Homo sapiens: one gene and its partner. The protein of the gene in region 2 interacts with the protein of the main gene of each other region in a biochemical or structural test. Each region holds a gene or a part of one and is shown on either strand. Other genes may lie near its edges.

Region 1 (4,217 bases), on a different chromosome or scaffold from region 2:
TGTTTCTGGATATCCTACAGTAGCAATCCCACCTGTTTCTGGATATCCTACAGTAGTGATCCTGCCTGTTTCTGGATATCCTACAGTAGCAATCCCGCCTGTTTCTGGATATCCTACAGTAGTGATCCTGCCTGCTTCTGGATACCCAGAAGTGATCATGCCTGGTTCTAGATACCCAGTAGTGATTGTGTTTCCTCTAGATACCCAGTAGGTATTGTGCTTGCTTCTAGAGATGTAGTAGTAGCTGGACTTAGCTCTAGATACCCAGTGCTCATCTCTAGACTGGGCTGAGATCAGTGTCTCCCTTGAAGGGTTATTGTAAGGATGAAAAAAGATAATGCGTTTAAAGCACTTGGTGTAGTAGGTGGTCTTTTTAAAAGTGTGAATAAATACTAGTTCTTATTATTTCTGTGGATATCCAACAGCCACATAATTGGGCCCCAAAGCCATGAAGAAGGAAGAGGAAATGTCTTAAAGGTTGTCGATGGACAGTGTTTGCTGAACATCAAAATCACTTTCCAGGTATTACCTCTGATTTGCTCTACCAACTCCACACCCCACCTGCAGCCACATAACCTTCCATGATCACGGCCATGCACAACACACCATGTCCCCCAGGCAAGGGGACCTTAGAAACATAACCAGGCTTGAGACAGCACTCTGCACCGGTGTCTTGGAAATGCTCTTAAGAGTGTATGGCTGAGTTAGGGAACCAGGATTTCAAAGTAGAAAGGGAGAATCTACCCAAGCCCATAGAAATCCTGAATCCACTCCTTTCTCAGCAACAAGCACTGGCCTGGGAGTCAGCCACTTATGCACCAACCCCACTCTGCCCCTAATTAAATGCATGACTTTGAAAATTCCCCTCATTCTTCTGAGCCCCAATTCAGTGATTGGTGCAATCACAGGCTTGGCTACAGTGACCCATTCATTGCAGGCATGGTGAGTCTCTCAATCCCTCTCATTTCCACTAGAATCTAACTGTTGGGATCTATGACCCAGTCAGCATAGCAGGCCTGTGGGGAGCTCTCAGGTTCAAGCATATGCCCCCCCTAATCTACAAGAAATTAGCTGCAGAAAACCAAGGAATAGAACCTGGAAAAAGAGAGGGTTTGCTAGAGCTGTCCCTTTCCCTGTCTCTGGAATGCCAACAATAGGGAGGCTCTTTGGTCTTGTCTCTCAGGAGTGCCCATGCCATTCCAGGAAAATGATGGCCCAGCTGGTGGTGTAAGGCTTGGGGGGCAGCGAGTGGGCATCGTGGTGAAAGCCTCGGGATCAGGGAGCTGCGTCTGCAGGCAGGCCTGCTGGCCGGAAACCTGCCAGGAAAGGAAGGGGCTGTCCCGGGGCGGGGCCAGGGAGGGGTGGAGACAGGGCCGGCTGTGGTCAGTGACAAATGCTGGCTGCAATCCAGCCAGCCCTCTGCCCTTTCTGAGCCCGAGGGACTGCCACCTCCACTGTGTGCACACTCAGCTACGGGACACAGTAAGTACCGATGCCGCAAAGGGAGGTCCCCAGGGCTTGAGGGCATGTGAGGCGAGGAGAGGATGGACTCTAGAGTTTTGGGGTTTGGGGTCTGCAAAGCTCTGAAGGAGTCTCATCTCTGCAGTTTCAGGTATCCAAGGCAGCAGAGGTGAGTGGGTCCCCCGAGCTCTGTGACCTTATGCTCCACACTAACTCTGGCAGAGCCTCCGTTTCCTCATAGGTAAGATGGAAATAATTACACCCTCTGGATGGTGTGACTGAAGATTAAATACAGCGGGTGCTCTCACTCAGCACATCTGGCCATGTCTGCAGACACATTTGGTTGCCACAACTGGAAGGGGGGTGGGGGTTAGTGACATCTAGAGGCCAGCGATGCTGCTGATGATCCCACAATGCCCAGGACAAGATCACAAAGCATCATCCTGTTCAAAAGGTCAACAGGATCAAGGTTGAGAGACCCTGAAATAAGGCCATGGGGACAAAATGTCGGCTGGATAGGAGGTGCTCAGTAAGTGGCAGCTTCTGTTGTTTTCTGTGCCTGGAGTCTTGGGCCTTTAGAAATCAGGAACAATGATCCAATATTATCGGCTTCCGTGAGATAAGGGCATCTTGCCTGGAGGCTGCCACCCAGGCCGGTCATGGCAGCTGCTCATGAAGGACAGTAACAATTTGGCAGTTTGTTAAATGAACAAAATGTAGAAATAAAGTAAGCAGAATTTTTAGTTTTTCTGAAGGTAGGGCTTTTGGCCAGATATGCAGCAATAAAAGAGCAAACTGCTTCCTTGGGCCAGTGTCCTTGCTCATAGATCAGGAAACCGAAGCATGAAGAATACAGGCGGCAGATGCCTGAAGGTAACGGACGTGTTCATGGTGCTGACGGTGATGATAAGTGACAGATGTAGACTCATCTCCAAACTTGTCAGGTTATAGACATTAAATATGTGCAACTTTATGAATAGCAGTCATGTCTCAATCAAGTGGTTTTAATAAAGAAATAATAGGAAGCCAGAGCTGAGAGACAGGGAGGGAGTTGTTCAAGGTCACCTGGCAAGTGAGCTCCGGGGCGGGGAGAGCTCAGCTCTGGGTGGCCAGCCTGGCTTTTTCCACTGCTCAGTGTCCAGCTTGCAGTCTAATGTCTCTGAATTACAGAGAAGGAGACTGGTCAGTTCATTCATTCATTCATTCTACAAAGGTTTATGGAGCATCTCTCCTGACTGCAAGCTCTTGAAGGTGAGAGCAGCACAAATGAGGGTCCCATGGAGAGAGAGGCCGGAATGAAAAATGTCAATGACAAATGCATATATAAAGGCACATGTGTAATTGAAAGAGCTTTGAGAGAAAGAGTCAAGGGACTGTTCCAGAGAATAGCCATGGAAGGGGAAAAGGTCCAGTGTGATAAGGTATTGCAAAGAAGTGACATTTAAGCAAAAGCCTGCAGCCTATGCAGAAGTTGGCCTCAGTGAGAAAGGTTGGGGGAGGGTTCCAGTAGAGAGGGAAGGTATGCAAAGGCCCAGAGTTAGGACAGAACTTGCTGTGTTTGAGAAACTGGGAAAAGAAGAGTGAGCCTGGGGGTATCACGTGATCCAGGGCAGAGCAGGTCCAGGCCAGGTGCAGCCAGGTCACAGCAGCCCTAGTGGGTTAGAGCACAAATCAAAGTTTAGCATTTATCTGAAACACAGGAGTTGGCCATGAGTTTCTTAGGCGAGGAAGCGCTGTGACCATATTTATGATTGAAGGAGATTCTTTTATATGCTGTATATAGAAAGCCTTTCAGGGCAAAGAAAGGAAGCTACTGGGGTAGCCCTGGGGGAGATGAAGGGAGCTTCCACTGGGGGCAGTAAGAAAGCCAGGGAAAGGCGGCAGCTTTAAGACCTGTTTTGGAGATAGAACGGACAAGCTTTGCTGATGGGCTGGAGTGGAACAGGAAGTCAAGATTACTTCTTCTGGGAAGTTCTGTTCCTGGGTCTTTAGGATCTAGAGGAAGCTGTGACTTTGTCTCTCATCTCTGCCTGGGCTCCAAGCCTCACATCCCTTTTTGTAATTAGAAGATATTGGACAGACCGTCCTCACTAACACAATTCCCACAGCTGAGTCCAGGGTAGAACTGGGCAGGACTTCACTGCCCAACACGGGAAATATCAGTCAGCAGATTTGGGTTTCGGGGATGGTGGTGGGCCAGCGGGAAGACTGACCAGGGCCTACCCATCACATCCCCACCACCTCCCACCTCAATTCACCTTGGCCTGAGATGACAGGTGAACATGACTGATCCTCTCTCTTCCCTCTGCAGAAACACTAAAGCCAGGGACCAGGAGAGGGGCAGCCCAACCAAGCTTTCAAAGCACTCAGTAGAGGCTGGTCTGGGGGATGGGAGGCTCCCAGGGCTTCACCTGTCTCTGTCAAAGCCATGTATTTCCACCAGAGGCCCAAGAGTGCGATGGCAAACCCTGGATTTGAAACTAAGAAACGTAAAACAAGCACTGAGGACTCCACTGCCTCTTGAGTGACCTCTCTGACCCTCTGTTTCTTCTGCACTGTTAGGATAATGATACTAACTCCATGTTGTTGTAGAGAAGTATAAATGAGCTAATACAGGTGAACCGCCTGGGGATACCAGGAGGTGAGGTCGAGGAGGAACGAGGTATCACTCCTCAGAGCCACTCAGAGACAGGCTGTGCACGAGTCAGAGGAACCTGGATTTTAATTCCGGTTCCATCACTCAGTAGCTGAAACAA
Region 2 (3,496 bases):
ATTTTGAGTCGCATAGGTGTGTGCGTGTGTGTGCGCATGTATGTGTGCGTGTGTTTGTGTGCACGTGTGTGTGTGTGTGTCTAGAATACTGCTGTCTACGAACACCCTATTCCCATCCATCTGTGTTCCATGGCTCCAACCGGGAGGGTGGGTTCTTGTGTCGGGCATCCAGTAAGTAGAAATAGAGGGCACTGTCCTGTCTAGGCAGCCCCAAGAGAAAAGAAACAGAGGGATGAGCCTGAGTCAAAGTCCCTGAAAAGTACCAAGGACCCCAGAGAATCCCAAACTGTCAACAAGGCCAAAGGTCAGAGGAAGTTCATAGCAGATCAGTCTTACTTTGGACGTGGGTGGAGCAGGAGTGACTGGGATCATGGTCAGCAGAGTCACTGGGACAGGGCAGGAACTGGACAATGGCTGCAGCCTGCGGGCAAGGTGCTTGCCTTTTCTTTCTAAGAGCAGTTCTCAAACGCCAGCAGGGCTGGTTCAAACACAGATGGCTGAGCTTCCAGGCTGGAGTTTCTCATTCACTGGATCTGAGGTTGGGCTGAAGAATGTGCATTTCTAACACGTTCCCAGGTGACGCTGTTGGTCTGGAGACTGCACTTGACAACCACTGGTTTAAAAACACCATTCACGTTATCATTTGAAGGAGGGTAAGACAGCCTTGTAGTACCACACAAGGAGGGCTACATTCTTAGGGGTGTGTAATTACAAGATGACTTAGTCAATTCCATTTTTCATGTGCATGTTTTGCTTTGGCAGCTTGATTATAAAGTCTCTGTAACTCAGGGTCATGATAAACTATTGACTTGAGGAAAGGTTTTCTTCTTGTTCCTGAAGGAGCATAATTACTGATGGAAAGGAAGATGTAGGAAGCTGCTCATCACAATGCTTCTGTTGCAGAGTGTACCACCAAAATCAAGCCCAGGATCGTTGGAGGAACTGCGTCTGTTCGTGGTGAGTGGCCGTGGCAGGTGACCCTGCACACAACCTCACCCACTCAGAGACACCTGTGTGGAGGCTCCATCATTGGAAACCAGTGGATATTAACAGCCGCTCACTGTTTCTATGGGTCAGTACCACGGCTGTTTTTATTAGTTCATCTTCTTCACACATTTATAAAAAATATTACTAGCATGTTAGGAAATAAATACTTTAACCAATTAGATTGTCTTATTTGCAAAATTAATTAATTGCTTCAGTGGTAAAAAACGCAAAAAGGAAGAGCTCATGGTCTCCCAGCATCAGAACAGGTGCAGGTACAAGGCTGCTTGACTGCCTGCTATTCCGCTTCCCATTTAACCGCATTCACATCCCCAAGGGCCTTCATGTTATTCCCTGCAAGAGCATACCTCCCTCTGTGCCTCGCTCTGTGCACTGTGCCCGGAACTAAACTCACAGAGGATTTACCATTGTCTGAATCAAATTTCTAATATGTGTGTGTGTGTGTGTGCGTGTGTGTTTAAATACAGAAAGTGGCCAGGTGTGGTGGTTCACGCCTGTCATCTCAGCACTTTGGGTGGCTGAGGTGGGAGGATTGCTCAATGCCAGGAGTCTGAGGTCAGCCTGGGCAACATAGTGAGACCTCGTCTCTAAAAAATATTTAAAAACTAGCCTGGCATGGTGTTTTGTGTGCCTGTAGCACCAGCTGCTCAGAAGTCTGAGGTAGGAGGATTGCTTGAGCCCAAGAGTTCAAGGGTGCAGTGAGTTACTACAGTGCCACTGTGCTCCAGCCTGAGCAACAGAGCAAGACCCTATCTCTAAGTAAATAAATAAAATACAGAACGAGTTCGGTATGCATCCTCACATTGGATTCCTTACTTAGGTCACTTTCAGCGTTGGCCAAACAAAAAGGCTCCAGCTGGGGGTATATATATTCCAGGGAAGTTAAGTTGGCCAAACTTTCCGTTTGCTACTTCAGTATCCTCCGAGTTGTTTCCAGACACAGTTTTGTGTGCTTTTTAGTTTTGGTTTTCTTTTTTAATCAATCTGCAGCACACTCATGTTAAACTCAAGAACACATGTGAGGCCAAGAGTTCCCGTTACCTGTCACATATGGGAATGGAGTAGCAGAAAGCCTAGTTTCTGTCACAGCTAGTTACTGGCGAGATTGAGACTGAGTCCAGCGGTCTTCGTGTGTGTGTGTGCGTGTGTGTCTGTGCAGTGTGCGTGTGTGTGCGTGTCTGTGTGTGCGTGTGCGGGTGTGTGCGTGTGTGTGTGTTGGAGCACGGAGGGAGTGCTCATTCATTTTTTGTGTATAATGGATTTTCTTTATAGGGTGAATATGTTTTTTATCCCGAAAAATCTTAGGATAAAATCACTTTTTTCTACCTAAATGTCCATCATTGGCAGAAAATATTAGTAATAATTAAACAGCCACACACTTCACAATGTCTGGGAATTATTTTTAGTAAAGGAAATTTCTTTCCCTCTGTTGTTTGCTCCTTAGGGTAGAGTCACCTAAGATTTTGCGTGTCTACAGTGGCATTTTAAATCAATCTGAAATAAAAGAGGACACATCTTTCTTTGGGGTTCAAGAAATAATAATCCATGATCAGTATAAAATGGCAGAAAGCGGGTATGATATTGCCTTGTTGAAACTGGAAACCACAGTGAATTACACAGGTACGGAGAATTTTATCCGGAAAGTTGTCTCCAATGGTGAACTGGATAAAATGTTTAACACTACTAGACTTACGGCCTGACCCTGCCAATCTCTCCATGCGTTATCATCATGAAAGGGAGAGGGCCTGGAATGCTAGTCATTCACTCTGCTAAGGCTGACACACTTTCCTGGCTATTGAAACTTATTTTGGGAATGTGGGTAAAGAGATACGTTTTCCTGAGTCTTCTTCAGGTGCATAGAATGACATAATTTCATAATACTTTGGAATAGTAAAGATAATTTAGTCTAAAGATAATTTATTAAAGATAATTTAGGGATGAAGGATTGAAGGTTAGAACAATTAAGCAACTTGTGCAGGATCAAAGTGAGTTGGATGAGGAGTTAGCGGTGAGGGTGAGGCTTGTCTCTCTCTCGCCCTCTCATCCTGGCACATGTGCGATATCGTGCTGAACCTGAGGGAGGAAAATACACGACAACAAGGCAAAAAATGAATATAGTAAACAAAGAAAACACAGATAATGTACAGTGGAAGAAGAGTCTCTTCTGGAAAAGAGGATATATTTTGCGTCTCATATTTAAACCACGATTTTTTAAATTTAGATTCTCAACGACCCATATGCCTGCCTTCCAAAGGAGATAGAAATGTAATATACACTGATTGCTGGGTGACTGGATGGGGGTACAGAAAACTAAGAGGTAAAAATGATGTTGTTATATGTGCTCCATCCTAGAAATGAAGAGCGGAACCTTTTCTGCCCTGTCAAGTCATGTAGCTGAAGCACAACTCGAGTCACACTACTCAGTTGCAGGAAGCGGATTAATAAAGATGGAGAGGCAAAAATCACCCAAGTGAGGCTGGTGCCTCATATG

Evidence for each region. The genes of interacting proteins can lie anywhere in the genome.
Region 1: the proteins of F11 (region 2) and SERPINA5 form a complex in vitro, tested with the Homo sapiens proteins (one study listed by BioGRID).

What each region holds. Positions count from the first base shown.
Region 1 is NC_000014.9:94,580,009-94,584,225, forward strand, and holds the start of SERPINA5 (plasma serine protease inhibitor preproprotein), read left to right. Parts: upstream 1-1,417; 5' UTR 1,418-1,482; intron 1,483-1,606; 5' UTR 1,607-1,702; intron 1,703-4,217. UniProt on the Homo sapiens protein: Heparin-dependent serine protease inhibitor acting in body fluids and secretions. Inactivates serine proteases by binding irreversibly to their serine activation site. Involved in the regulation of intravascular and extravascular proteolytic activities.
Region 2 is NC_000004.12:186,283,189-186,286,684, forward strand, and holds part of F11 (coagulation factor XI isoform 1 preproprotein), read left to right. Parts: intron 1-903; coding exon 904-1,072; intron 1,073-2,449; coding exon 2,450-2,625; intron 2,626-2,909; exon of another isoform or gene 2,910-3,078; intron 3,079-3,226; coding exon 3,227-3,322; intron 3,323-3,496. UniProt on the Homo sapiens protein: Factor XI triggers the middle phase of the intrinsic pathway of blood coagulation by activating factor IX.